Linked DNA regions of Homo sapiens. The protein of the gene in region 2 interacts with the protein of the main gene of each other region in a biochemical or structural test. Each region holds a gene or a part of one and is shown on either strand. Other genes may lie near its edges.

Region 1 (16,503 bases), on a different chromosome or scaffold from region 2:
AGCTGCATGACAGACTGTGAAAAGAAAGGAAAAATACAGAATGTTTAGAAATCTACTATCAAAAGTCTGCCAAAAAAATAAAGTACAGAGAAGTGAATAAGAGGAAGATACATTTTGAATTATGGATTAGAGAGCAAAAAGCATACTCCAGTGAGTCATTTGGTAACATAAAGGTTAATCAACTTGCATGAAAACTGCAAGGGCCCAATGCACCAGAATGTCAGGTTTAAAAAGCAGTCTAACAGGCTCGAGAAAAGACTTATGGTATAGTAGACTAAATGGTAGAAAAGATGGAAAGGACTTCATCTTAGCAGACTGGAGACAGAGTTTTCTGCTGGCCTCAAGGAAACAAGGTACCGTATGATGAACTGCCTACGGACAGGGCCGCATACGGGGAACAGCCTCTAGTCCCTGAGGGAAGCCACCAGTCAACAGGAAGAAGACAGCGCCCTCACTCATATAGGCACAAAAGATGAACTCTGCCTACAACCTCAATGAGTTTGCAAACAGATTCTTCCACAGTTGAACCTCCAGATGAGAATGCAGCCTGCTTGACACTTTGAGATGCTAAGCAGCAAACCAGCTAAGATGTGCCCATACTCCTGACCCAGAAAAACTGTGAGACAATAAACCTGTGTTGTTTTAAGTTGCTAAATGTGGGGGTAATTTGTTACACAGCAACAGAAAATACAAGCCTACTCTCCTTAAGAAACCTTCCCACTGCATGAGTAAGGATTATTTTTACCTTCTCAAAGTCTTTGTTACAGGGACTACAAAAATGGAAGGCCACACAGAACCTGAGTACAACTGTATAAAAGCAGCAACCTTAGGTTTAGTCATAGTTGTCTGCATTAGAACTACAGAATGTTAAGAGTTGGAAGGAAACTGAGAGGCCCCTTAGTATCATCCTTTATGTTTACAGATAAAGAATGCAAGGACATGTAATAGTTCATAACTTGTTCCTGATCACATAGCTGATTAAAGGCCAAAAAAAAAAGAAAAAAGAACTGCTAATCTAGTGAATTTCCCACATCTTCACAAATTGCTCATATGTATAAATTGTGTCTTTTCCCTGAAAATAAAGGATTGAGAGCCAAACTATATAAATTTCATTTCTATCTTCTATCATGAAAATCAGTTTTAACATAAATTTATTGTTACTAGTTAACTAAAACATGCTTAGCAATAGGAATTTACTTGATGAATAAGGACTATGTTTGTTAAACCAAAAAAAGACATATGAGAAATTATACATATATTTTACACCAAGTAAATCGCAATAGAACCTGTTTCAGCTTGGCTTTGGTGAAAAATACTAGTAACCTTCTCTGTGGGGTTAACTAGTTTTGTCAGTGTTTACTGTATCAAGCATATTTCAGAAAATGTCATTTGATCATCAGAGTACCAGAAGCCATTGTTGCAATAAAGAGCTCTTGTATTCTGGGTCCAATTTTAAAATATCTTTTTAAAAACTTGCATTTACAGTGATGAAGATGGCAAGAAAAGTAAAATAAAAATTTGCATTTAGAACTTGACATAGGTCTGCTTTATTTTATAAAGTGTGCCACACAAATAAAATTTTTCTTAACATTATATATGACATTCATTTGGCAAACACTACATTGCAAACCCATCACTGTTTATCTAATTCCTCTAATTTTAAGAAATGAGTCAAATTACAATGCAGCTTAACTAGAACAAGAATTGCAGTATTTCAGATAGCAAGGAAGAGTTACTATAATTCATGCTTACATTAAAAATCAAGAAATCCAAATAAAATACCACGTTTAATTCAATTTATCACGTCCAAGAAGTTACAAAGGCAATGTAGAAGAAGTAAGTAAAAATGGGGAAGCCCTAATTTTTAAGTCTGCCTTGAAAACAATTTTTTCTTATCAATGAGACTTTCTAATAGGACTCATCTTGCCATTGGCACCCACAAAATCTAACCACCCACCTCCACTTCTCCGGGAGGATCCCTTCCTAATGTCTGATGCCTCTTCCCTCACCTCCATTCTTTGCCCACTGCTGCACATGCTTAAAGCCCAGCCACCCTTTCACCCACAGAGGTCATAGACCACTGCTACTATGGTTAATTCTCAGAAGTAATAAACTCAGAACCTGAAAGCACATAATGCCTACAAGACTGTTCACTATTTCAAACTTCTGCTCTGGTTTACATGAATTAAAAAAAAAAAAAATCACTCTATTTTTTCTGCTGTACCAAGGCAAAAAAATTCTACAATCACATTTAAAGGCATGGACTAATGACTTCACAAGACATTGCAGTAGCAGTTTCAGTTGTGTTAAGAGAAGCTAAAAATTAGCAGGTTCTGTGCTAAGCACTGTATCATCTCATTTATTCTATAAAATCGCTCCATGAGGAAATCAAAACACAAAGTTTGGCCACTTACTCAAGGATGACATGCTTAGTAAATATAACATAACCAGGATTTGAACACATGCCATCTGCTTGTGCTCTTAACTGCTGAAATATTCTAGTCATTTTTCTAGTCAGGTTGCATAACTTGGTGGCCCACGGTTAAGCGTAGAGTTTCTATTAAGCCCAGTAGCAAGCCCAAAAGCTGTTTCTTAAAAGAGCAGTTACCTGCAAAGGATGGAAAGGCTTTGCTCCAAAATCCTAAGGTTCTACACTGTATCTCCTATAGGGCCTGCAAAAGGTTCCTAACAGCATTTCAATCTGCCACTGACATTTCAAGCACCAGAAGATCTGCTGGGTCATATGGCCTGAGTGGCAGAGCAGTTTGCACAGCAGCCTGTACCTGTTGTAGAGGCGCCTTTTGTTCTGGGATCCACTCAAAACTAGCAGTATTTTAGGTCACTCAGTAAACAACCTGAAGTAGCACACCCAAATGAGGAATTTGTCATCTCCAAAATCCAAAGAGGCCCACTAAACCTTGCTTCTCTTTTTGTTATAGGTGGGAACATGCCCTACACTACTCCAGTGGACCCCTAGAAATTTCACAGGTGGAAGGCCCCTGAATATTTGTTGGATTTCCCACCCTCTGACATGCAAATGTCATACCAGTAAGTCTAGAGTAGTTGTTTCTTCTTGCCCACCAGGTCCAATCAGCATAATGTCATCAATGTGATGGGCCAGTATGATGTTTTGTGGAAGGGAAGCACAATCAGGGTCTCTATTTGTTTGCTACAGCTGCTGTAATAGAGAACCACAAACTGAGGAGCTTACAAAACAGAAATGTACTGTCTCCAGCTCTGGGGTTAGAAGTCCAAGATCAAGGTGTCAGTAGGGTTTGTTCCTTCAAAGGGGGTGAAGAAGAATCTGTTTCATGCCTACCCCCTTGCTCCTGATGGTTTGCTGGAAATGTGTGACATTTCTTGGTGTTCCTCTACTTCAGTTTCATATGGCATTCTCCCTGTGTGAATGTCTGTGTTCAAATTCCTCCTGTTTATAAGGACACCAGTTGTGTTGGATTAGGGGCCCAGCCTACTCCAGTATGACCTCATCTTATCTAATTACATTTTTAACTACCCTATTCCCAAATAAGGTCATACCCTGAGGTACTAAGGGCTAGGAATCCAATACATAAATTTTTAGAAGACACAATTCAACTCATAACAAGATCACAGAGATCTTGTTATGACATAGTGTTGGAAAGTTGACATTCCCGAGGTAGGACAGTGAAGGTGTATTTTTGGCTTTGTTAGTTGAAAGAAAACTGCTTTTGGTGATCTTTACTAACAGATACTAAGACAAAGCACTCAGCAGATCAATAACTGCATGCCAGTTACTAGGGGATAGGTTCTCAAGTAATGAAATGACATCTGGAACAGCAGCTGCAATTAGTCACTACTCAGTTAAGTTTATGATAATCCACTGTCATTTTCCAAGATCAATCTGTTTTCTGCACAGGCCAAACAGGAGGGTTGAATGCGAATATGTCAGGAATCATCACCCCTGCATCCTTAAGTGCACTCATCTCTGCAATTCCTCCTGGAATGCGGTATTGCTTTTGGCTTACTATTATTCCAGGAAGAGGCAGCTCTAGTGGCTTCTACTTGGCCTTTCCTACCACGATCGCCCTCACTCCACAAGTCGGGGAACCAGTGTGGGGATTCTGCCAGTTGCTGAGTATGTCTATACCAGTTATGCATCCTGGAACTGGCAAAGTAACCATAGGATGAATATGGGGACCCACTGTGAGGAGAACCTGGGTTAAACTTCCATTGACCACCTAACCTCAACAAGTCCCTACTCTGAATGGCGGGCCAAAATGACACTTTGAGTGTCCTGGAATTAGTGTCAGTTCAGACTTAAGAGTTCAGTAATCTGTGAGAAGTCTAATTATTTCCTCTTCTCCAGTGCACACTTACCCTGATAAGCCATAGGTCCCTTTGGGAAACCTGAGAAAAAAATTAACGGTATAAATTCTTAGCAGCGCAATGGGGTCCTTCCTCAAAAGGATCCAGCCTCCCCTCAGTCAGGGGGTTCTGAGTCTGTAAAATGACTCAAATCTGGGAACTGATTGAGGGACCATGACTCTTTCTTTGGTAATTAAAGTAAAGCTTCCATTCACTTGACCTAGAACTCTTCTGCTTATAGAGATCAAGTCAGAATTCAGTAGACTGCCCAACGAGTTCTCTTCTAGGGACACCATGACCACCTACCCAATTAGGACCCCCAAGTCAGGCTGTTCAGATTGTTGCTTTGACTCCGCTGTCCCCCATGATGGCAACACACCTACTTACTCTTTGGTGATCACATAGCCCCTGCCATCCTAGATCCAACCATCCCTGCTGCAGCTAAGGACCCCCAGTCAGTGGCAACAGCTCCCACTGCAATCTCTGACCTGAAGAGAAAAGCAACCCCAGAGCTCTTCACGGATTCCTGAGGAAAACCGGCAATGTCTTGCAAGGTAACTACCTCAAGGGAGGTCATTACAGGTTCTTCAGGCAAAGCAGAGTTAACCTCCTCAGAGGTGGAAGAACTGCTTCTACTGGCAAAAAAGAGTGAGTCAAATTTAGGAGTTTAACATCCCCAGCTTCATCAGGATGTTCCCATATGGCCCTATTCCAAATGTGCAGATCCCATTCCTTCCCAATCAATGCCCTCATTTTAATAGCAGACCAAGGTGAGAAGGGAATTCAGTTAGCACTGTAATTCAGCCACCTACAGGATAAGACTCTGGATTTGGTTTTCACCAACCTCAGCTCTGTAGCTACAAGAGATACGGGTTTCTTTAGGGCAGACACAGAAACTTTTCAGGTCACTTATGTGGAGCTTCAATCGGGAATTTGAAGCCTTAAGCTCCCCTTTTCTTTCCTTTCTTTTTTTTTTTTTTGAGACAGTCTCACTCTGTCACTCAGGTTGGAGTGCAGTGGTGCAATCTCGGCTCACTGCAACCTCCGCCTCCTGGGTTCAAGCGATTCTCCTGCCTCAGCCTCCTGAGTAGCTGGGATCATCCTTTTCTTTTCTCACTTTACCCAGTACAGTTAAAAGCAACCAGCCTATCTTATTGTACTCATTAATTCGATTAAAATGTTCTAAGGTATCAAATACCTGATCATTCTGAATCTTGTCTATAAGCATGAGTGGGAGTATCTAATAGTGATCTTTTGCATATCTTTGTTGCCATATCACACCAGGGACTATCAGTGCCCTCTTTTCTACAGGGAATACTCATTACTGCCTTTGAATCTGATCAGTTTGGAAAACCAATTCCAGAAACACTATAATCAATTCAGAAAACTCATCCTTAAGATTCTGCTCACTAGAAGCACTCTCAGCACCCAAATTTGAATCAGTCAGGGCTCTACAGAGATACAGAACTGATAGGAAAAAATATATAGATGTAGATAAAAACATAAATATCTTCATCTACATATAGACAGATACAGAGATATTGGTATTTTAAGGAACTGGCTCACACAACTGTAGGGGATAGCAACTTCAAAATGTGTAGGGTAGATCTACAGACAGGAAACTTAGGCAGGAATTGATGCTGCAGTCTTGAGGAAAATACTGTCTTCTTCAGGACACTTCAGTTTTGGCTTTTTTAGCCTTCAATTGATTGAATGAGGTCCACCCACATTATTTAGGGTAATATCCTTTAGTTTAGGTCAACTGATTATAGATGTTAACCACGTCTTCAGAATACCATCATAGCATCAACCAAACTAGTATCTGATTAAATAACTAGGTATTATAGCCTAGCTAAGCTGACATAATAAAACTAATCATCACACACAGTATTACTCAACAAAATCTTATTTTCAACTGAAGGAAAAACCTTTTAAACAATAATATTTTATTTGTTCCAGAAAGACAATGAAATTTCAGTAGGAACACTTTCCTGAGTGGAACAGAGGAAAAGTCCTTCATCCAAAACTATTTGGAGGAACAAAGCTTCCATGAACCACCTCTCTTCACAGAACACTATCTTAGGAAACTATAACATTGTTTCTACATTTTTAAAACAATCTCTATGTTTCAAAAATATGATCTTCAACTCTACAACAGAAATCACACTTTAAAATTATACCTCTGAGAGAAGTACTCTCACTTTCTTACAAATGGGTTGAAATAAATCCTGCAGGTCCTTTCCTTGTCTTGGTGGAGCTCACATTCCAGCAAGATAACATCCTTATCTAACTATTTTCTCTCGGGACATCATAACCCAGGCATTAAGAAGTATCAAAACACTTTCTGAAAAATCTACTATTTGCTAGGCAACGTCCAGTTCTGAGTATGATCTTCTAGCCAGCACTGTTTCATTATTAGCAGAGTCTGGTCAATCAGCCAGACTGCCTGGGTCCAAATCTTGATCCCACTACTTAACAAGCTGCATGATCTTGGCCAAGTTACTTAACCCTCATCTGTAAAACAAACACTCATAACTATACCACTGGGTTCGGTTAGAATTAAACGAGTGCAAATGAATAAAGCACTAACCTTGGCACCTAAAAGGTACTCGAGTATTAGCTATTATTATTTTAATGTCCAGAAAACCAGAGATTACTCAGGCAATAATGAGGGAAAAATAACACCAATGGTAACTTTAAAATCATTTTTATCTGGCTCATTTACTTACATTAACTGCTTTCAAGAATCCTTCCCCTCTATTCTCAAATGAATTTACACAACTTCTAGTTAAGTTTTATAAAAACTGAAAAATGTAATCTCTATATATCCCATCATCGTGGAGTTTTCATAAACACATAGTTAAGAGGCTTTTAATCTAATAACTTTTTTTGTTTTGTTTAGTTTTTTTTGAGACAGTCTCGCTCTGTCGCCCAGGCTAGAGTGCAACGGCGCAATCTCGGCTCACTGCAACCTCCGCCTTCCGGGTTTAAGCGATTCTCCTGCCTCAGCCTCCTGAGTAGCTGGGATTACAGGCACGCGCCACCACGCCTGGCTAATTTTTGTATTTTTAGTAGAGACGGGGTTTCACCATGTTGGCCAGGCTGGTCTCAAACTCCTGACCTCGTGATCCAACCGCCTCGGCCTCCCAACGGCTGGGATTACAGAAGTGAGCCACTGCACCCGGTGTTTAAAAACATTAAAACATGTTTTTAAAAGTCAAAATTACACTCATTTTCTGTAAAATTACAACAGCAATTATCTCAAGAAACTTAAGCATCAGGAACAGGGAATGTAATTGCCTGGTTCTAATGCTTGTATATGCCTATAATGCATTCGATCTGTAAGACCTACACTTTTGCAGTTGTCAATATTCATGTAATGAGATTAATTCTCAACTTACCTCATTTCATATAATAACAAATACAAGCAGTCATCAGAAATTGATGGGTCATCCTTATTTGTGAAAAATAGGCCTCATTCTTGGTTCAAAGTTTGTAACCTCAAATGGGCTAATGCCCACAATTTAGAAGTGATTAGATTGGAAAGCACAACGCTGCAAATGCTGCCTTCCCCAAAGCCAGGTCTATTCATTAATATACCTGTGCCTACTGACAAGAAGGAAGGCTGGTAAAGCACATTTTCAAAGCTGTTTTAAATGGATCAATTTTGGTAAAGAGTAATTCAAGACGGATTGTAAATCTGATCAGTTTTACAACCTTGGAAGGTGGGGACTTGACGCACGACGTTAATATGCACACGCTTCAATAATCTATCCACAGGTAGTTTTGACCCTGATCTCAGGTTGAAAGTCCTCAACTATGGAGCTTTCGAGTTTCAGTACAGTAGGCGCTTTCACTCCCCAGTAGAAATCTGGGGTGATGGCCAAAAAAAGTGTGTTGTCTCCCCCAAACCACACCATGCCAAGTTCAGCCAACGCAGACTAATGCATCCTTAGGTATTTGTCAAGAAGAGGTATAGGCGGTCCCTTTTCTCAGAATCTAACAGGTAAGAATGGCCTCTTGTGGCTTCCCAAACACGGCGGTAAGGACCAGTCTGCCAGTCCCTAATAAGAAATTGCTAATTTTAAAAACCATTCCGAACGCGGGCGCTTCCGGGCCCCTCTTCAACTGGCTTCGGAAGAAGGGGGGAGAACACGGTGAAGGGTTACAGCAAAGGAGGCTGAAAAACAGTCCCAAAGCAAGATTTGCCAGGACACTGGCTCGACCCGGAAGGGCGGGGGGACCTCTCTCGGCCGCCGGGGTCTGTGGGGTCGGCGAGTGTGGACGACCCGTCTGGCAGTCGTACACTGCCACAGCCCGAAGAGCGGCGCACGCGGAGCAGTTGCCGGGTTCGCGCCGCGAGTCAGCTCCCGGACACACGCCCAGGGTTGAAGGTGCCCTCTAGACCCCTCCCGCTGCCCCACAGAGGCCTGGGCCCATGCTACCTCTTAGGACGCTGGAGCCGCCGCCGCCGCTTCCCGCCGCGCAGGCTGGACCACAGCTCCTCGGATGCCACGGCGGTGTCACTCAGCAGAGCAGCCCGACAAAGCGTGGGTCCGCGTGCAGGAACCCGCCGGGCTCAGCCGGACGCTAGCCCCCTGCCGCCCCCGGCCCCGCCAGCCGCGCCCACTAGCAACGTGCTCGCGACCTCCAGTGCCCGCTCAGTGAAGCTTCTGCATGCCGCGCGCGGCACGTCGGGACTCGTAGTTCCGGCGCGGAGGACGTGCGTCGCGGCACTCTCGCCTGACCGTCTCCACGTGACTCTCGCACCTCCGGAAGTGACGTAAGCAGACACGCGTGGCGCGGGCCGCCGTTTCCGCAAACAGAATCGCGTTTGGCTGTGCTGGTGAGTGTGACGGCTGGAACTCCGGCCCTTCCTTTCTTTGTGTTTGTCCCTCGGCCGCCGTGGAGGGGTGGAACTGGCACTCCCACCCCTGACATGGGCTCACTTCGCATTAGCCCTGTGCTTCACTACCCAACGCGTGGGTCTATTGCCTTGTGTCCTCAGTCCCAAGGAAAATGGGAACTCCTTGGGGTGGGCGGGCGCTGTTCCTCCTCCAGACTGGGCGAGCCCGGGTGGGAGAAGCAGCTCGAAGAGCTGCTCCAGCTCGCGCCCCAGGGCCGTGCTGGGGAGGGGCGTGGGGTCCGCAGGTTTGTCTTCAGCGGCGCTTCGGAAACCTGAACCAGAGGTTGAGTAACAGGCCGCGCTAATGACGGAGGGGGTGAACTTGGCTGGAGAAGTCCCTTCTCGCCTCTGTGCGTCCTCTCGGGCCCCGTGGTAGAGGGTCAAGCGGGCGGGTCGGGACTTAGAGCTTATCCCGCTTGGGCTTTATCCCGGCGGCCCTGGCGGCCTGCTCGCTCGTACCCTGAGGAGCTGAAATGACGCAGAGACATAGCTTGCTTCGGAGGTGTGACTGGAAAGCCGGGTCGAAATGTTCGTGTGGTTATTTATCGCGTGTCCATCTCCATGTCAGTCGACCACCTTTCGAAGGTTTCTTGAAGATTCTGAGGGACAGCTCTCTTCCCTATGGAGTGTTTTCATTATTCCACTTTGAGTTTGGTTTGGGTTTTTTTTCCCCCAATTTGTTAAATTGATACATAGAAGTTGCACATATTTGCAGGTGCAGGTGATACTTTGATACATGCATACAATGTGTAACGACTAAATCAGGGCAATTGGGATATTTGTCATCTCAAACATTTATCTTTATGTTGGGAACATTCCAATTTTTCTTTTAGCTATTTTGAACTACACAATAAGTTATTGTTAACTGTGTCCACCCCACTGTACTATCAGGCACTAGATTTTATTTCTTCTGGGGTTTTTTGTACCCATTAACCAATTTCTCTTCTTCATCCCGCTCCTCTTCCTGCTACCCTTCCCAGTCTGTGGTAACCACCAATCCACTCTTTACCTCCATCAGGTCCACATTTTTAGCTCCCACATGAGTAACAACATGATATTGTCTTCATGTGCCTGGCTTATTTCAGTTAACATAATGACATCCGGTTTCATCCATGTTGTTGCAAATGACAGGATTTCATTCTTTTTAATGACTAATATTCCATTGTGTATATATGCTACATTATCTTTATTCATCTGTTGATGAACGCTTAGGTTGATTCCATATCTTGACTATTGTGAATAAACTTGAGACTGCAGATATTTCTTAGATATACTGATTTCCCTTCTTTTGGATCTGTACCCAGATTTGCAAAACTGTTCATCGGACAGGGGATTAACAACCAGAATATAGAAGAAACTCATCTCAATAGCACTAGTTCTATTTTTTGTTTTTTGAAGAACCTCCATCATACTTTTCCCAGTATGTAAATTAGTGGCTGTGCTAATTTACGTTCTCCCTAACAGTGTACAAGTGTTCCCCCTTTTCTGCATCCTGCATCCTCATCAGCATCTTTTTTTTTTTTTTTTTTTTTTTTTTTTTTTGTGTGTGTGTGTGTGTGTGTGTGTGACGGAGCCTTGCTCTGTCGCCCAGGCCGGAGTGCAGTGGCTTGATCTCAGCTCACTGCAACCTCCACCTCCCGGGTTCAAGCGATTCTCATGCCTCAGCCTCCCGAGTAGCTGGGATTACAGGCGCACATCACCATGCCCGGCTGATTTTTGTGTTTTTGGTAGAGACGGGGTTTCACTATGTTGGCCAGGCTGGTCTAGAACTCCTGACCTCAAGTGATCTGCCCACCTCCACCTCCCAAAGTGCTGGGATTACAGGTGTGAGCCACCGTGACGGCCTCAGCATCCATTTTTTAAAAATCTTTTTGATAAAAGCCGTTTTAACCGAGATGAGATGGTATCTCATTGTGGTTTTGACTTGCATTTCCCTGATATTACTGATATTGAGCATTTTTTACGTATATACCTGTTGGCCATTTGTGTGTCTTTTAAGAAATGTCTATTCAGATCTTTTGCCCATTTGTAGTAGGATTGCTTCTTTTTTTTTGCTATTGAGTTGAGTTTCTTCTGTATTCCGGTTGTGAATCCCGTCAGATGAATGGTTTTGCAGATATTTTCTCCCATTCTCTAGGTTATCTCTTCACTCTTGTTTCCTTTGCTGTGCAGAAGTTTTTTAGCTTGATGTAATCCCATTTGTCTGTTTTTGCTTTTGTTGCCTGTGCTTTTGAGGTCTTACCACAAAAATCTTTGCCCAGACCAGTGTCTTGAAGCATTTCCACAATGTTTTCTTCAAGTAGTTTCATACTTTTGGGTATTAAATTTTTCAGTCCATTTTGATTTGATTTTTGCATATGGTGAGAGAGAGTGGTCTAGATTTCCCAGCACCGTTTTTTGAAGAGACTGTCTTTTCACTATGTACGTTCTTGGCACCTTTGTTGAGAACAAGTTGGCTGTAAACATGATGCTTGGTTTTAAACGTTCTTACTTATTTTTGTGGTCATCTGGAATGCTGTGTCATTTCTTCTGACCTAATTATGTTTTTATTATGTCACATCTGTGATATCATGAAAGTGACATAAGTAAAATTCATGCTTAAATCTCAATATTAATTTTAGGTAATAAATATAGCTAAAGATAAGTCACATTTCTTTATTTGAATTTAAAGCCAATTTCCATTAGGAAATCAATGGCAGAGGAGGAGAAATAGGAATTTGATAAGTTGGTATCCAGTTTTTCTAGATAATCATTTTAAGTATTTGTTCTGAAAATCACTTTTCTGATTTGTTGTTGTTGTTCTCTGATTCAGTTCTATTTGGTACTTCTTGGTATTTTGTTACCTCAAATGGTGGGTCATGAAAACTAATAACCATTGAAACCCTTACCCATTCATAGTGAGTGACTTGTTACCCATTCCTTTAAGCAACTTGATTTCTTATTCTTTTTCATTATCCAAAAGGCTTTTTATTTATTTACTTTTTTTTTTAAGCACAAACACTTCCTTCATGAAAAAGCTTTTTTTTTTTAAGTGGGGTCTCACTTTGTTGTCTAGGCTGGAGTACAGTGGCACAATCATGGCTCACTGCAGCCTGGACCTCCTGGGCTCAGGTGATCCTCCTACTTCAGCCTGCTGAGTAACTGGGACTAAGGCATGTGCCACCATGCCCAGCTATTTTTTGTAGAGACGGGATTTTGCCATGTTGCCCAACCTGGTCTCGAACTCCAGAGCTCAAGCAGTCTGCCCACCTCGTTCCCCCAAAGTGGTGGGATTACAGGTGTGAGCCACTGTGCCCAGCGAAAGCTTAACATTTTAATAGTGGTATATAAGCTATAAACATCTTGAAAACATGATTTACATTGAGCTTCTCCATAGTAGGAGGTCACTAAATTTGTTGAATGGCTTAATAAATGAACCACCATAATTCTTGCCCAATAGATAGTTCAGTTATTTCTCTCGCTTTCCCATCTTAATGTAGGTCTAAAAACATATTTGAAAGAGACTTAATGGTCATCAAACTGCAGGCTGAGTCCTGAAACTTGTCTAAAGCCATTTCTACTCTCTTCACTTTCTACCTAATTGGAACACCCATTATGAAATACGATTTCAGAATTCTTGCTGTAGAATCCCAAACTTTTTCTGTTCTTGATGCCCTTAGTGTCCATAGGCCAAAAGAAATATAACAGTTCCATTTATTAAGTAGTTTACCCCAAAGAATTTAAAAGTATTTATGGTCTAACAACTTTATGTCTGTTTAAAAAATTAACACACATAAATTGGGGGGAAAGGTAATGTTTCTGTTTTATTCTTGATTAATCACAATCCCTTACTAACAGGATGTGTGAACCTATTGGGTACTGTACAACTTCAAGCCTCGAAATCAGATAGGCACCACCAACCTCATTTCCTGTTTCACCTTGATTTTCTGTGATACCAAAATCTCAGCTTCACAAAGTCATTGAAAGGTATGTAGTGTAATCTATTCAGCTGGAACTGTGCTGTACTTAAAGCTGGTAGTTTCTGTGATATCTTCCACATTAGGTTCTGTGGTGCCTGTTTGTTATGGTGCCAACCATGCAGTTTGGGAACCAGGGTTATAGAGTAAGGATCAGAACCAAAATGGAACTAGTGCATGTGTATCGCCACTTCATTTGTCAGCTTTAATGCCAACAGTGACTTTTATGAATAAGATTATAGAATTTTGGGGGGATTATAATTAGTACTGCCATATTCAGAAATTCATACATAGTATCAGTTAACATTTTTTAATATGCTCTCTACAATGAGATTTTTTTAAACTCCTAGTTGATCAAATTCTAGTTAAAATTATTTTAGGCCAGGCGCAGTGGCTTACGCCTGTAATCCCAGCACTTTGGGAGGCCAAGGCAGGCGGATCACCTGGGGTCAGGAGTTAGAGACCAGCCTGCCCAACGTGGGGAAATCGCGTCTCAGCTAAACATACAAAAAATTAGCCAGGCGTGGTGGCAGGTGCCTGTAATCCCAGCTACTGGGGAGGCTGAGGCGGGAGAATCACTTGAACCCCAGAGGCGGAGCTTGCAGTGAGCCGAGATCATGCCATTGCACTCCAGCCTGGGCGACAAGAGTGAAACTCCGTCTCAAAAAAAAAAAAAATTGTTTTAAAGTCTTAGTGTTTACAAGTAATACCAATTTTTTTCCTATTCTAGTGTTGGTTCATGAAGTTTTACCATCAATTCAAGTAATCATAAATGGCAAATTCTGCAAAAGCAGAAGAATATGAAAAGATGTCTCTTGAACAGGCAAAAGCGTCAGTGAATTCTGAAACAGAGTCTTCATTCAATATTAATGAAAACACAACAGCTTCTGGGACTGGGCTTTCTGAAAAGACTTCTGTCTGTAGGCAAGTAGACATAGCAAGAAAGAGAAAAGAGTTTGAAGATGATCTTGTAAAGGAAAGTTCTAGTTGTGGGAAAGACACTCCATCCAAGAAGAGAAAACTTGATCCTGAAATTGTCCCAGAGGAAAAAGATTGTGGTGATGCTGAAGGCAATTCAAAGAAAAGAAAAAGAGAAACTGAGGATGTTCCAAAAGATAAATCTTCTACTGGAGATGGCACTCAAAATAAGAGAAAAATAGCACTTGAGGATGTTCCTGAAAAGCAGAAAGTATGTTCAGTGTATTTTCATTTATTCATAATAGAATATGTAAGTTTGAAATGTGGAACACCCGTGGATTCATACTGGTTTTTACATAATAGCTTAAGAATGTTCTATTTTTAATAGATATGGTCCTAAGACAAAGTAGGCTTTTAACTCTTATGATTTCTGTTAAGGTGAAACATCTCCTGCTAATGAGATAGATTTTTTAGTTTTTGTTTGTTTTTATTTTCTAATGAGATAATGTTTATCTTATTTTAGAATATTTAACTAGAAACTTTTTTTTCCGAGACAGAGTCTTGCACTGTCGCCCAGGCTGGAGTGTGATGGTGTAATCAAAGCTCACTGCAGCCACAACCTCCTGGGCATAAGCAGTCCTCCGGCGTTTTTAAAAAGACTAGAGTATGAGATCCAAATGATTTACCTATTTTTCTTTTTTATTAGGTGTTCAGCTCTAGTTTTTTTGTCAGAGGTTATCACTTAAAGGGATAACTTTTAAAATTATACCTAGCTTTACATCCCTTTATTAATGTAATTCCTTAAACAGTTTTCAGCTTCTTATTAATGTATTTTACATACTGTTTTAGTTAAGTGAATGCAAATGCCTAATATTTAGCAAAGATATTATAGGGCAAGTTGTTTTCATCTGGAAGTACCACATTAGAAAGGAATTTGAGGCAGAATCTGGAGTTAGAGGAAAAGATTACTTTAATGAGTAAATAAAATTCTGCCATTGGCCCTTATGAGGAAAGTGACTGATAGTGAGGCTTTTGTCATCAATGGAATGTGAATTCTTGTAACAGAGGGGAGCCCCCCCTTTTTTTTTTTTTTTTTTTTGGAGACAGAGTCTCACTCTGTCTCCTAGGCTAGAGTGCAGTGGTGTAAACTCGGCTCACTGCAACCTCCACCTCCCGGGACCTCCACCTCCCGGGTTCAAGCGATTCTCCTGCCTCAGCCTCCCGAGTAGCTGGGACTACAGGTGCCCACCACCATGCCTGGCTAATTTTTGTGTTTTTTAGTACAGATGGGATTTCACCATATTGGCCAGGCTGGTCTTGAATTCCTGACCTTGTGATCTGCCCACCTCAGCCTCCCAAAGTGCTGGGATTACAGGCATGAGCCACTGCGCCTGGCTGGGAGCTTGTATTTTAAACATAGTTTTCAAACTTTTACTAGCCCCAGAACCCCTTTTTCAACTGAAAATCTTACACTTAAACCTGTTACGTAAAATAGGTCAAGGATTTGTTTGAAAGGCCTTTCAGCACATCAGTGAGATTCAGCACTTTGGCTGAAAAGGGAGGTAGGAGGATCCGAAGCCCTTTACCTATCATGGCATTTTTACAGGATTTCTAGGGCCTCAGGAAGCACAAATTGAAAACTGTTGGGTTACATGTAACATATATAATAGCATTATTATAATAGAAATCACTAACGCTGCACATAGCCTACTGAATTCTAATCTCTCTTTTTTTTTGAGAGTCTCGCTCTGTTGCCCATGCTGGAGTGCGGTGGCCCGATCTCGGCTCACTGCAACCTCCACCTCCTGGGTTCAAGCGATTCTCCTGCCTCAGCCTCCTGAGTAGCTGGAATTACAGGTGTGCACCACCATGCCCAGCTAATTTTTGTATTTTTAGTAGAGATAGGGTTTCACCATGTTGGCCAGGCTGGTCTCAAACTCCTGACTTCAAGTGATCCTCCCACCTGGGCCTCCCACAGTGCTGGGATTATAGGTATGAGCCACCTCACCCAGGCCTAATCTCTTTATATACATTATCTTATTTAATTTTCACAACAGCTTTATAATAATAATGTAATTATAGCTTATTCCTAATTTATTCCTTTGTAGAAACACCAAACATTGACTGTCATTTATTGAACTGAATAAATCAGAACTCTGGAAGAGTACTGGGTTTATTAAGACATTGACACTAAAATTAATGCAGATGAAATATCACAATGAAAATTTTAAACCTAGAGATGTTTTTCAAAATAAGGTGATATGGTTTGGGTGTGTCCCTACCCAGATCTCATCTTGAATTATAGCTCTCATAATTCCCACATGTGTGGGAGGGACCTGATGTGAGATAATTGAATCATGGGCGCAGTTCCCCATACTT
Region 2 (15,643 bases):
CTTTCACCACTTCTATTTAACATAGTACTGGAAGTCCTCACCAGAGCAATCAGGCAAGAGAAAGAAATAAAGGGCATCCAAATTGGTAAAGAGGAAGTCACACTGTCACTGTTCACTGATGATATGATTGTATACATAGGAAACCCTAAAGACTCATCCAAAAAGCTCCCAAATCTGACAAATGAATTCTTTAAAGTTTCAGGATACAAAATCAACGTACACAAATCAGTAGCACTGCTATGCACCAACAATGGCCAAGCTGAGAATCAAATCAAGAACTCAATCCCTTTTACAACAGCTGCATAAAAAAAATAATAACAATAGAATACTTAGGAATATACCTAACCAAGGAGGTGAAAGATCTCTAAAAGGAAAACTACAAAACACTACTGAAATAAATCACAGATGACACAAACAAATGGAAACACATCCCATGCTCATAGATGGGTATAATCAATACTATGAAAATGATCATACTGCCAAAAGCAATCTTTAGATTCAATGCAATTCCCATCAAAGTACCATCATCATTCTTCACAGAACCAGAAAAAGCAATCCTAAAATTCATTGAACCAAAAAAGAGCCCAAATAGCCAAGGTAAGCAAACAAAAAAGAACAAATGTAAAGGCATCACATTACCCAACTTCAAATTATACTACAAGACTATAGTAACCAAAACAGCATAGTACTGGTATAAAAATAGGCACACAGACCCATGGAACAGAATAGAGAACCCAGAAAGAAAGCCAAACACTTACAGCCAACTGATCTTTGACAAAGCAAACAAAAGCATAAAGTGGGGAAAGGACACCCTATTCAACAAATGGTCCTGGGATAACTAACAAGCTACGCGTAGAAGAATGAAACTCATCTCTCACCTTATACAAAGTCAACTGGAGATGGATCAACTCAAACTTAAGTAAGATCTGAAACCATAAAAATTCTAGAAGATAACATTGGAAAAAACTCTTCTAGACATTGACTTAGGCAGAGTTCGTGACCAAGAACCCAAAAGCAAATGCAACAAAAACAAAAATAAATAGATGGAACCTAATTAAACTAAAAAGCTTCTGCACAGCAAAAGAAATAATCAGCAGAGTAAACAGACAACCCACAGAGTGGGAGAAAATCTTCGCAAACTATGCATCTGACAAAGAACTAATATCCAGAATCTACAAGGAACTGAAACAAATGAGCAAGAAAAAAACAAATAATCCCATCAAAAAGTGGACAAAGGACATGAACAGACAAAAGAAGATATACAGTTGGCCAAGAAGCATATGAAAAATGTTCAACATCACTATCAAGGAAATGCAAATTAAAACTACAATGAGATACCACCTTACTCCTGCAAGAATGGCCATAATTAAAATATCAAAAAATATTAGATGTTGGCATGAATGTGGGGAAAAGGTAACACTTTTACACTGCTGGTGGGAATGTAAATTATTACAACCACTAGGGAAAACAGTATGGTGATTCCTTGAAGAACTAGAAGAACTACCATTTGATCCAGCAATCCCACTACTGGGTATCTACCCAGAAGAAAATAAGTCATTATCTGAAAAAGCCACTTGCACAGGCATGTTTACAGCAGCACAATTTGCAATTGCAAAAATGTGGAACCAGCTTAAATGCCCAAGAACCAATGAGTGGATAAAGAAAATGTGATATGTATATATACCATGGAATACTACTCAGCCATAAAAAGGAATGAAATAATGGCATTCATGGCAACCTAGATGGAGTTGGACCCCATCATTCTAAGTGAAGTAACTCAGGAATGGAAACCCAAATATCCTGTGTTCTCACTTGTAAGTGGGAGCTAAGCTATGAGAATGCAAAGACATAACAATGATATAATGGACTTTGGGTACTCAGGGGGAAGTGTGGAGAGGGGGGATGAGGGATAAAAGACTACTACAGTGTACACTCCTTGAGTGACAGGTGCACCAAAATCTCAGAAATCATCACTGAAGTACTTATCCATGTAACCAAAAACCACCTGTCCCCCAAAAACTACTGAAATAACATAAAAATGTTTTTTAAAAAGATCTTTACTAAAGATCTCTATTTGAGCAATCAGGATCTTAATATCTCCTCCAACCTGCTTCTCTCTCAGTAAGCCCTAATAATATCAACTATCTCATGTGCATAAGCCAGACATTTGAGACTAAATTTTGACCCTCTTTCCCTCATTCTAAATACGACATCAAGTTCTGTCCATTTTCCCTTCTTAATATCTCTCAAATTAGCCTTCTACTCTTCATCTGTCACTTTTAAACTATCACTATTGTCTTTCACCTGGACTACAACAAGTTCCTAATTAGTCTCTCCATTTCCACTCTTTTCTCCATCAATTCATTAAACACAGAAAAGTCAAAGTAAGCTTTTAACTTGGATTCAAATAATCTCATCTCGATGCTGAAAAAAAAAACTGCAATTGTATGCCACTGAAAATTTAAAGCATATAAATATTAGGATACCTTATCACACCCTACTTGCCTGTATGATCAGGCTATTCTCCAACCTCTTAACCTCACTTACATCTTCCAGAACAAAGACACTTTTTCAGTCTATTATCTCTCCCATCATCATCCTATCCTAACAGAAACTTTCAATAACACCCCCTGCCAACTATTTATCTAGAAAACTTCTATTTACTGAAGATAATTCATGTATGACCTTCTCTGGGAAGTCTCACCTGATCTCCTTCTTCCTTCCCATCTCTTCTTCCTCAACCTCAAAGAATTAGGTTTATTACCTCTGATTCCCATCATATACCACAATAGAGTCATTGCTACATTTTTTACAACAGAACTGTGCTTAAAATGGATGGTTTGCTACTCCCATGAGACTCTGCTTTTTAAGGGTAATATATCTTAGCCATCTCCCTAGCACCCAGGACTAGCACAAAGTAGACATTTAAATATTTGCTAAATAAAATGACTTCAAAATCACCATCACTATCACCATCACACTATCCTGAGTACCTGGGACCACAAGTATGTGCCAATGCACCTGGCTGTGTCTCATATTTACATTCCCACAGTTCCTAGTAAGCTCTTTACATAGCAGATATGAAATAATTTTATGTTGAATGATATATCTTTAAGAAACTAGGGAGGGCTGGGTGCGGTAGCTCACACCTGTAATGCCAACACTTTGGGAGGCCAAGGCAGGCGGATCACCCGAGGTCAGCAGTTGGAGACCAGCCTGGCCAACATGGTGAAACCCCATCTCTACTAAAAATACAAAAAAGAAAAGAAAAGAAAAGAAAAAAAGGAAAAAGGAAAAGAAATTATAAGTTTGTTTTCTTCCAAGTATTCACCTGAAATCTATTAACTCAGAAGGAGGAAAAAACAGTTCTTCAGAAAATAAAGCTTGGCCCTGTCTCCAAGAGCTCTCTCTCATTGCAAGTCTGGTTTCATCAGAGAAAGTGACTTCACAGAGAAACAAATTATATGTAGTTAGTACCATTTTCTTTCTGATTCAGGAAAATTATGAACTTCTAGTACTAGTAAAGTGAATCCTAACATTTACAACATATAAGTTTGAGCAGCCATAACATTTTCCTCAATATGCAAAATATCAAAGAAATTACTGTGATGGTTAATACTGAGTGTCAACTCGATTGGATTGAAGGATGCAAAATATTGATCCTGGGTGTAGAGGGTGTTGCAAAGGAGATTAACATTTGAATCAGTGGGCTGGGAAAAGCAAACCCACCCTTAATCTGGGTGGGCACCATCTAATCAGCTGCCAGCATGGCTAGAATATAAAGCAGGCAGAAAAATGTGAAAAGACTTGACCGGCTTAGCCTCCCAGCCTACATCTTTGTCCTGTGGTGGACGCTTCCTGCCCTCAAACACTGGATTCCAAGTTCTTCCATTTTGGGACTCAGACTGACTCTCCTTGCTCCTCAGTTTGCTGACAACCTATTGTGGGACCTTGTGATCGTGTGAGTTAACAGTTAATAAACTCCCCTTTACGTCTGTATGTGTGTGTGTGTATGTATGTGTGTGTGTGTATATATATATATGTACATATATTTCCTATTAGTTCTGTCCCTCTAGAGAACCCTTACTAATAAATTACACGATAAGTACAAATTACTTTTTTTTTTTTTTGAGATGGAGTCTCACTCTGTCACCCATGCTGGAGTGCAGTGGTGCAATCTCAGCTCACTGCAACCTCCGTCTCCTGGGTTCAAGTGATTCCCCTGCCTCGGCCTCCCGAGTAGCTGGGATTACAGGCACATACCACCACGCCATCATAGCTTTTTGGCTATTCATATAACTTATTTTGTGAAGTGTCCAAATTTTTTGCTAGTTTTTAAGTCCTTTGAATTTCTTCTGTATAATACATTGATGGTGGGACTATCAAGTGTTACCACTTTGGAAAAGAGGTTGGCAGTTTCTTAAAATTCTTAAAACATACACCTACCATATGATGCAGCCATTCCTCTCCTAGAGACTTACACAAGAGAAATGAAAGTATATGTCCACACAAAGAATTGTACATGAATGTTCACAGCAGGTTTATTTGTAATAGCTAAAAACTGGAAATAACCCAAATGACCATCAATAGATGAACAGGTAAACAAATTGTGGTATACCCAGAACAATAAACTACTACTCTGCAATAAAAAAGGAATAAACTATTGATACATGCATAATCTGGATGAGTATCAAATTAATTATGCTGAGTGAAAAAAGCCACACACACTTCCTTCCACCCCAAGAAGAGTACTCACTATATGTTTCCATTTATTTAAAAATTTCTAGAAAATGCAAACCAATCTATAATTACAGAAAGCAGATCAGTGGCTGCCAGGCGAAGGAGGGATTTAAAAAGGGGCAAGAGGAAACTTTGAGGGGTTTCATGGTTGTTTCCTAGGAAAGAGATATATTTGTGTATATACAGTCAAAATTTATCAAACTGTACGCTTTAAAGCTTATTGTATTCAAGCTCAATAAAGATGAAAAAAACTACAAGAAAAATAATTAAAAAAAACAAAAACCCGGCCAAGCGGGGTGGCTCTCGCCTATAATCCCAACACTTTGGGAGGCCGAAGTGGGAGCATCGCTTGAGTCCACGAGTTCAAGACCAGCCTGGGCAACACAGTGAAACCCTGTCTCCACAAAAAATAAACAAAAAAATTATGGCCAGGCACAGTGGCTCACGGCTGTAATCCCAGCACTTTGGGAGGCCGAGGCGGGCGGATCACTTGAGGCCAGGCGTTGGAGACCAGCCTGGTCAACACGATGAAACCCTGTCTCTACTAAAAACAAAAATTAGCCGGGTGTGGTGGCACGCGCCTGTAATCCCAGCTACTTGGGAGGCTGAGGCAGTGAGCCGAGATCACGCCACTGCACTCCAGCCTGGACGACAGAGAGAGACTATGTCTCAAATATATACATTATAAATATATATATACTTTAATAAATAAAAAAATTAGCCGGGTGCGGTGGCAGGAGCATGTAGTCCCAGCTACTTGGGAGGCTGAGGTGGGAGGATCCCCAGCCCGAGCAAGAGACCCTGTCTCACAAGAAAATAAAAATAAAAAACTAACAAAAACACCCTCCAGATTCCCAGTCTCAATGTGACCCCATTTCACCGCTGGGAACCGCCCCTTCCCTCCTTAACCCTCCTCCATCTCAATACTGATATTCATCCCTTCTTTCGAGGGGAAGGTTGAACCCTAACAGGTTCGCAAACTACTAAGACTCAAAGTACGCCCACTGTATTCCTGGATCCTCACCTCCTGCCACCAACCTCCTGTCTACCTTCACATTCGCACAGTTAGCCTTGCAGGAATAGTAACAAGTGCCCCCCATCCGCCGACCATCCCCTCCCGTTCATGTTCCCATTCATCCACGAAGCGTAATCCGACGGAGCATATCCCGCTCCTGAAATACCACTAATGGGCACAGAACCACCAAAAGCTGAGCTCCTCAGTCGGCCCACCCCCGGGCACGTTGGAGTGTGGGGATTCGAACGCCCCCCAGTCCAGGTTACCTGCCACCGGCTGGCCGCGCCGGGGACAGTTCAGCCACCGCGGCGGGATCTTGTTGTGAGCCATGTCTTGGGGCTGCGCAGAGCTGCCCTCCCTCACCAACGTTCACCGCGCCTTTGGAGCCGCCTCCCCGTGGTCCGGTGCACACCGGGGTCCGAGACACCCGAATCGCAGCCGTAATCTGAATTCCAACCTCTCCGATCCGGGTAACGTCAGGGGCGGCGCGCCACTTTCATTCAGGATCAACTCCACAGCTCCAGGAGAACCCACAATGCACCGCAACTTCCGCCCCCGAAAGCCCCGCCCCCTTTCCGAGGTCAGAGGGAAAGAAGAGGAAGCTCAGCGGAAGGATAGCAAAGAGTTAAGGACGCGACGAATGGGAGGAGCGGGCCTTCTCTCGCCCCACTCGGCACCGCCCCGCCCCGCCCCGTCCCGCTCCACGGACGCGCCCGGACGCTACTGGTTCGCCTTTGCGCATGTGCAATTGCCCTCGTACCGAACTCCGCAGGACGAAGCGTGTATTTTTTTCCCATCCAGACAACCTAGAGAAACCCAAAAAAGAGGGAAGCCAAGCGCCTTTCCATGCGTAGATTGCCCGCCACTTCCGTTAAGGCATCTATTTTACTGATGAAAAGAGGCCTTCTGAGCGTTACCACAGCTCAAGCTTGGCGTCCCAGCCGGATCTAGGTTTGATTTGCAATTAGGGAAAGTTGTTCAAGGGAACAAGTCTTAGGAGAATTCTAAGGACATGAGATTGGAGTACCAGAAATGGGGAATTTTTCTTTTGGTGAGTACTTACGAGGATCTATGAAGCTTCTGAAATTAATTCCAGAACACTTAGAGTTTTGTTTGTACATTTCTGGATCAAAGTTTCAAAGCATACTGGGGAGTTTGAGAGGGTCCATGTCTCCAAAAAAAGTTACTAATTAATGTGGTATAATTGACAAAGGTAGGAATTGATCAGTGGAGAACCTCTTCGTGGCGTTGTTCTCCTTGGCCTACCAAATAAACAGTGCCTTTTATTTTCCCTTCGAGTTAAGCAGAGGTGCTTGAAAAATTTTTATAAATGCCGTCCTTTAACGAGCCTTTCCTTTGTTACCAGATTAAAGTGTTAAATATAAAGCTGGATGATGGCGAATCAATTATAATGTAGTTTGGCTTTAAACACCAATGCTATATTGGAACTGCAAGAACGTAAGGCTGCAGGGAATACATTTTTAAAGCGTCGGTGGGGAACTTTCTGGGACGCTCAACCCCCTGAATGCCTGGACCCCCTCAGTAAGAGTCCCATCAATAGAGGCAGTCCAACAGCAATCTCTCTGAGGCAGCCTGAGTTAGGTCACACTTCTGGTCTGTCCTGCTGTTGCATCTGCTCAGAACTGTTAGTGAAGGTGTAAACTCCTCCCCTGACAGAACAAGATAATACCCAGTTTCCTTTAAGGCCATCAGTCTACCCAAATAATCTCCGATGAATTCCCTTTTCTGCTGATAGAGTGTGTACCATGCCCAAAGTGGTAAAAACCTTCCATCCCCAGACCCCCTCCAAGGATGGGAAAGGTGAGCCTGATCCTGGAAGAGTATCTTACCTTCCCCTTCTGGGGATGACTCCCCTTGGTGACTCCCCTTCCCACACACGCTATACCCAGTAGCTCAGTCCTAGGCACACAGAAGCTTCATACCACTGGCGAGCAACTGTTATTGGCTGTAAGGCAGCAATGTGCACTGGATTTTTATTCTGCTATCCAGTTATGCCCTCTCCATACTCATTGCCACAGAATTGGGAGGACCCTGTGGCTACCTTTTGTCCACAATAGAGAGTAGAGTAGGAGAGTGGCATCCCGATGAGCAGGCAGTTTCTCTCTGCCTGTCAGGAATGCCTTGCCTGATGTGTGTTTCTGCCTATATTGCTCCTAGTCCCAAGTTTCTACTACTCTGTGAGAAGAAAAATAGATGCTCACAGACAGACCAACATGATTCCTCCCCCGCTTCCTGGAACCCCTGACACCCTCCCAGATATGTCTTGATCTCCTCTTTATCAGATGTAGATTCTCTTCATTGGTGAGTCTTTCATCAAACATCCATTTTGCCCATAAGGAAGAGTGTGTACATGTAAAAAATAAGATTGAACGTTCTCTTTTGGCAAAAGAGAGAGATCTTATCTGTCTTCCCTTTTCCTAGGACTTTTCCTTGAGAAAAACCTATATTTATTAATCCTTCCTCTTCACTTTGATATGTAGATAAATCTTTTGTTTTTGCAGACAGGGTCTCACTTTCTCACCCAGGCTAGAGTGCAGTGGGCATGATCAGGGCAGCCTTACTGGAGCCTCAACCTCCCAAGCTCAAGCAATCCTCTCACCTCAGCCCCCAAGGAGCTGGGACTACAGGTGCAGGCCCCCACACCCCACTAACTTTTTTATACTTTTTTCGTCTGGAACTCCTGCAAGCAGCCCTCCCACCTCAGCCTCCCAAAGTGCTGGTAAGACAGCCAGGTGGGAAGGATTCCTTGGCAGAATCTCCTTTTGACCTGAGCACTGGGAGGAATGCACCCTGTGGTGGAGCCTTGGGAAATTTGCGCCATTTGCAGTGGGGAGGAGCCTGGCCCCTCCTTTTCCTAGGTGGAACCTGGGATTCAGTCTACCAGGCAGGAAGCACTCTGGCTTTGGGGAGAGTCTCTGTTTCCCTTTTTTTCTTTTTGCCCAATAAATTCCATTCTCACCCTTCAAGGCATCTGTGAGCCTAATATTTCATGGCCATGTGACCAGGACCCAGCTCTTAGCTGAACTAAGGAGAAAGTCGTACAACAGCTTTGGCACCCAATGTGGGGCTTGAGAAGCGGTTGAGTGACACGGGGACTCAAAACTTTTCACTGTCATTTCTAAGCCTTTTCATGCGTGGACTTCTGAGGGTAGGGAAACCATGCCCCCACTCCCATCGCTCCCTGGGGTCAGGGGCCTTTCCATGGCCTTTGCCTTCGTTTTTTGGGAAGGATAGGCAAGTCGCAGCTCCTCATTCCCTCTCCCCTCCCAGCTGGGGCTGGGGAATGCCACATGTCCACAGCATCTTCCCCTTCCCTGGCCAAGGCTCAACTCCATCTGATAAGCTTCTCTCCCTGGTAGAGGAACCATTTGCCTAAGAATAAAAGGTTTATTCCCCCAGGCATCCTTTTTTCTTCACCCCATCAACAGTTAACTTTTAAACCAGATGTTTTTTTTCTTTTTCACTAGGCTAGGAATGATAAGGATCCCTGTTTATATTCTCCTTAAAGTTTGGTTGTGAAAAAGGATCTTATGGGGACTGGTTTTCTTCTGCCTGTCTGTGTAGCTATATATATGTTGTGTACATGATGTCTATGAAAAGAGCTCAAAGGCCAGGCACGGTGGCTCACACCTGTAATCCCAGCACATTGGGAGGCTGAGTCAGGCAGATCACCTGAGGTCGAGAGTTCAAGACCAGCCTGACCAACTTGGAGAAACCCCATCTCTACTAAAAATACAGAATTAGCCAGGCATGGTGGCACATGCCTGTAATCCCAGCTACTTGGGAGGCTGAGGCAGGAGAATCACTTAAACCTGGGAGGTGGAGATTGCACTCCAGCGTGGGCAGCAGGAGCAAAACTCCATCTCAAAAAAAAAAAAAAAAAAGGAGCTCTAAGGCCAGGTGTGGTGGCTCATGCCTGTAATCCCAGCACTTTGGGAGGCCAAGGCAGGCAGATCATTTGAGAGTCAAGAGATTGAGACCAGCTTGGCCAACATGGTGAAACCCTGTCTCTACTAAAAATACAAAAATTAGCCAGGTGTGGTGACGTGCCTGTAGTCCCAGCTATTTGGGAGGCTGAGGCAGGAGAATCCCTTGAACCCAGGAGGCAGAGGTTGCATTGAGCTGAGATTGTACCACTGCACTCCAGCCTGGCCAACAGAACAAGACTCTGTCTCAAAAAAAAAAAAAAAAAAAAAAAAAAACTCTAATTGGCCTAAAGGAAGACAAGTGCTTAGATCATATATTTTTTAAAGGGAAGGTAAAAGATGTGGTACCTTTCAGTTCATGTGACTTTAATCTTTGAGAAATAAAAACAGCCTTAAAGATTATTGGTAAAAAACAGATGTCATCAAAATGTAAATAGGTGGACTAAATTATGCAGGTTAGGTACTAGTCTTGCTAAATGTTTTAATGTTATAAACTGCTTTTTGAGTTTTGAGAACTATCTGACTTGCTGGCTTCACAATTGATAAGGCCTGGGGACATATGGAACTAACCATGTCATTAATTATGCTAGAAGGAGTCAAAACTTCGCTGCACCTGGCACACAATTAAAACAACTTACCAGGTTTTACATTAAAGTTAAAATTGCTAGGAGTTACCATTATAATGTATAATTGAAACTACTGAAAATAGATTTACATGCAAGGTGTGTAAGAACAGTAAAATGTGTTTTTTAGTAAAAGGTAATGGAAGGCATGGAAATGTAAATTTTTGCCTAGGGTTAGGGAATTGTTTTAAATTAGGTAAGATAAAGCTAAAGGTTTAAACAAGTTCTGGAAGGTTAAAATTAATCTTGCAAAAGAAATGCTGTGTGTGAACATTGGCTAAATTCAAAAGTAAATTGAGCATTGAAATAAAAGCACAACAAAGTTTTCTTAAGGCACTAATCTGCACTTTAGCAAAATTTGTAAAGGGTTATAAAAAGTTTTTGCTTCTTTAAAATTTCTGAGTAATTTTGGCAAAATAAATAATTTATGGAAATCTGGAATTCTATTTCATAACATCAAGTGTTTTAAACCACTAACATATTTAACAGGCTTCCCAAAAATCAAACTTCAGTTTCAAAATTGTCTTTCCTGACACCTGGCTTTTCAGAGGCTCCAGAAGGACCCTAGAGTGTCCAGAAGAGAAATGTAAACAGGATTAGTTGACATGTTTAGGTATGTGGGATTGCCAAAATAATGTTCAGTTTTCTTTTTTTCTTTTCTTTTTTTTTTTTTTTTTTTTTTGAGACAGAGTCTCACTCTGTAACCAGGCTGGAGTGCAGTGACACGATCTCAGCTTACTGCAACCTCCGCCTCCTAGGTTCAAGTGATTTTCCTGCCTCAGCCTCCCAAGTAGCTGAGATTATAGGCACCCACCACCATGCCCAGCTAATTTTTTTGTATTTTAGTAGAGACAGAGTTTTGCCATTTTGGCCAGGCTGGTCTTGAACTCCTGACCTCAGGCGATCTACCCTCCTCAGCCTCCCAAAGTGCTGGGATTACAGGCATGAGCCACTGCACCCGGCCCAGTTTTCTTTAGGTTATATTATTGTGAATAATACTAATATATGTTCCAAAATTGTATGGGATTTCTAAAATTCTAATGTCTGAGATAACCAAACTTCTTTGTCAATTGTGTTTCTAACTGTAACTACCCTGGACATTTTGTTATTCACAGACAATTGTTGTCTTGTTTTAATCCTTTTCAAAAGATGATTTATAATGAGCTATAGAACGTTAACAGGTGCTCTCAAATACCAATTTCTGATGACTTTGGAGATTGTAACAAAAGGAAAAATGTACAAGACTCACAAAGAGCTGAAATGTTCATGAATATCAAGCAAATCAAGAACTAAATTGACTGAACTCAGAAAGCTGAAGCAATCTTTTTGACTTTTGCTTAGAATATTGCTGACCCTTATTTTTCAGAGTCAAGGAAACTTACTTTGAACTATTTACACCCTTTAATAATTGAGTAAGGTATACTCCTGTGAACAAAATTTGGAGTATCGGGGGAACCCACCCCCAGTATTTCAATGAAGGTGCTTTCTATTTTCCCTAAGTGTCGGCCAGTCTGAGAAATAAAGAGAAAGAGTACAAAGAGAGGAATTTTACAGCTGGGCCACCAGGGGCGACATCACATACCGGTAGGTCCATGATGCCCACCTGAGCCGCAAAACCAGCAGGTTTTTATTAAGGACTTCAAAAGGGGAGGGGGTGTATGAACAGGGAGTAGGTCACAAAGATCACATGCTTCAAAGGGCAAAAAGGAGAACAAAGATCATATGCTTCTAGGCCAATAAATATCACGAGGCAAAGGGCAAAGCAAAGACCACAAGGCAAAGGGCAAAATCAAAAACTCCTGATAAGGTTCTATGTTCAGCTGTGCACATATTGTCTTGATAAATATCTTAAACAACAGAAAACAGGATTCAAGAGCAGAGAACCAGTCTGACCTCAAATTTACCAGGGCAGGGTTTCCCAATCCTAGTAAGCCTGAGGGTACTGCAGGAGACCAGGGCATATTTTAGTCCTTATCTCAACTGCATAAGACAGACACTCCCAGAGCAGCTGTTTATAGACTTCTCCCACCAGGAATGTATTCCTTTCCCAGGTTCTTAATTATTAATATTCCTTGCTAGGAAAAGAATTCAGCGATATCTTCCCTACTTGCTTGTCCGTTTATAGGCTCTCTGCAAGAAGAAAAATATGGCTCTATTCTGCCCTACCCAGCAGGCAGTCAGACCTTATGGTGTCTTCCCTTGTTCCCTGAAAATCACTGTTATTCTGTTCTTTTTCAAGGTGTACTGATTTCATATTGTTCAAACACACATTTTACAATCAATTTGTACAGTTTGACACAATAGTGGTCTTGAAGTGACGTACATTCTCAGCTTATGAAGATAATAGGAATAAGAGACTAAAGTAAGACAGGCATAAGAAATTATAAGAGTTTTATTAGGGAAGTGATAAATGTCCATATTAAAATGAAATCTTCACAGTTTATGTTCAGAGATTGAAGTAAAGACAGGCATAAGAAATTATAAAAGTATTAATTTTGGGAACCGATATATGTCCATATTAAAATGAAATCTTCACAATTTATGTTCCTGTACTGCGGCTCCAGCCAGTCCCTCTGTTCGGGGTCCCTGACTTCCCGCAACATTGGAGCATATTTGTCTCTCTGCCTGGCTTCTCCAGAATTTGGAAACTATCTGTGAGTATTCTTAACTTATGGCAATATAGTTGTTTGCATCAGCGCAGTAAGAATCCATTTTTCTTTTGCAACAGGACACAGTTGGAGAAACTGGTTATTCTACCAAGGCTTTGACTGAAGGGTATGCTTCTCTTTCAGGAGTCAGTCTCAACTTGCAGAGCCAATAAAAGCCCCTTGGGGAAAAAAAAATGGCCTCATATCCTTGTCTACGCAGTCCCTGTACAGGGTTCCTGACCTGTGGTCAGTAAAGAATGTCACTTTCTAACAGGCCTAGGGGCTCCAAGTTTATCTTAGGACTTTAAAAGGAGAGGATCACTCAACTCACAGGTATTTAAGGATACAAACCCAAGGCTGGGCTCAGCTTTAAAAGGCCTTCTCTGAGATTCCTTGTAAAACAGATTTCTATCAAAGCCAATCCAAAAGGCCTGTATAGGAATAATTACTCTTGCTGCACTTTATGCAGGCCAAGTATAAGACTAAAGTCTATTTTGCAAACAACTCAGTCCTACCATAATTTTTTTTAACAAAAATGAGGACTGGAGAGAGAGAAATTATGCTTCAAAACTTATCATACATTTGTCATTAAATTATAAACTCATTAGTTGTCTGTAAGTTTTTGCCTACATTTTAAACTAACCCTGCTTGTTCCTGTGAACCAACCAGCAATCTCTGGCTGTAGCCCAGAAAGAACAAGAGGGATGGGTAATGTAAAAATCCAGACCAATATTCTAGTTCTGACCAATTATCCTTCAAATCCTGCCAGGTGATGGGAATAAATAGGATGCCCATCACTCAGAGGTTTCCTTTTTGGGAAAGTAAGACCAAGGGAGCTAACCAAAGTCAAGCACGATGTGCCCAAATCCTAAGCAAGCATAACTATAGCCACCAGTTATCTGGGTGTGTCACAAGACATCCCTTTCTCTCCCTTGTTGGAGGAGGACTCAGTTCCACAGTTTCACCTTAGCATTTGGCTTATGAGAAGGAGTTCATGCAGTCCCCACCCTAGACACATTTTTGTCCCAAACTCAATTCCAAGCTTTGCGTTAAAGCCCTAGGAAAGAAAACTGGATCTGAGGGATGCAGAGGCAGACGATAACAGAAGTTTAAAGGCACAGCACAGGTGAGCATGGCTGATTCCTGCCGATTAAGCCAAGCCTCCTGTTTCATGGATAAAGATCATGCTAGTATCCATGGCATAAATAAGGTCTAGGGAACTCCAGACTACTGACAGTAGGTGGGATAGAAACAGTGGTGAGATCAGATAATTCCTATTTTCTAGGCCCTCCTTGCTTCATGGGTGCAAGCCACTTTGGCACCCACGGCAGCACCTGACAAGGTCACCGGGACGCAGGGATGCAAAGACAGAAGTGGGAAAGAGAATGTTCTTCCCTCTCTCCCTCACATACCTGGGGTATCTGCTAGGAAGAGAAGGGAACAAGAGACTCCTGCTCCCGTTCTTTTAGATGGGTAGCCATTCATCTTCAGTCTGTACCTTTTTCAAATGCATCCTGAACCCCTGAGACTCCTTTAAAAAGCTCCTTCTTTTTTCCTCTCTCCTCCTCTGTCCTCTCTTCACAGATAGGTAATTGCATCTTCGTACTACAGGACACTCCCCTCAGATGCATCCTCCAAACTGGAAAGGTTAATTTCCCAAACCTTAAACTGGTTGGTTTAGGATTAGGCTCAGGGGAAGGGAACGCCCTGTTGGAAGAAGGGAACCCATGTTGGAAGAAGCCCAACATGCTGGCAAAAGGGTCAAGTTTACTACCAGTAGGGCTTGTGGCCTCCCTCTCCCCATGCAAACTGGTAAAAGGCCTTGGGATTTTTGAGCTGCCCTTACCCCTCCCCTTGTTTCATTTTAATACATGTTTTCTAATAACCCGATTTGTCTCTTCTTGCCTTCAGGCCATCAAACTCCAAACAATCACACAACCAGAGCCTCTGATGACGGCCCCTTCTGCTAGGAACCCTTAAATAGGCCTCTGAGGCAGCTCTAACTGCTGTTTCCCCAAACATCGCCCCCCTTAACAGCAGGAAGCAGTTAAGATTGGTCATCATGCTTATCCTAATGGCAGTTAGATGGACTTCTTTAGAGCACAGACCGCTAAACACCTGCTAAATGGCAGCTCCCTCCCACTCATTCTGGAGTGTCACCTCCAGAGGCTGCTCAGCTTCTTTCTAGGGTGTACGGATACTCTTCCTGGACAGGCAGGTGTTCCCTGGTCCCCATTCCTCACCCCAGCCCGGGAAAGGGGACCTGCCCATTCTCAGAGCACAGGTAGCTCCTCCCTCGCAATGTACAGCCAAGTATAAAGGGGTCCCTGGAGAAACTCCAGCTGGCCTGTGCACTGGGAGAAGTGTACACTGGGGTGGAGCCTCGGGAAGTTTGCACCATTTGCAGGGGGGAAGAGCCTGGCCCCTCCTCTTCCTGAGTGGAACCTGGGATTCAATCTGTGAGCTGGGAAGCACACTTGCAGGACTCTGGCTTTGCAGAGAGTCCCCATTTCCCTTTTTTTTCTTTTTGCCCAGTAAATTTCATTATTCTCACCCTTCCACGTGTCTGCGAGCCTAATATTTCATGGCCATGTGGCAAGGACCCAGCTCTTAGCTGAACCAAGAAGAAAGTTGTTCAACACTGGGATTACAGGTGTGAGCCACAGCACC

The links.
Region 1: the proteins of RNGTT (region 2) and RNMT form a complex in vitro, tested with the Homo sapiens proteins (one study listed by BioGRID).

What each region holds. Positions count from the first base shown.
Region 1 is NC_000018.10:13,717,540-13,734,042, forward strand, and holds the start of RNMT (mRNA cap guanine-N(7) methyltransferase), read left to right. Parts: upstream 1-9,133; 5' UTR 9,134-9,190; exon of another isoform or gene 9,191-9,326; intron 9,327-13,087; 5' UTR 13,088-13,216; intron 13,217-13,936; 5' UTR 13,937-13,978; coding exon 13,979-14,395; intron 14,396-16,503. UniProt on the Homo sapiens protein: Catalytic subunit of the mRNA-capping methyltransferase RNMT:RAMAC complex that methylates the N7 position of the added guanosine to the 5'-cap structure of mRNAs. Binds RNA containing 5'-terminal GpppC.
Region 2 is NC_000006.12:88,957,325-88,972,967, forward strand, and holds the start of RNGTT (mRNA-capping enzyme), read right to left. Parts: upstream 6,295-15,643; 5' UTR 6,086-6,294; coding exon 6,022-6,085; intron 1-6,021.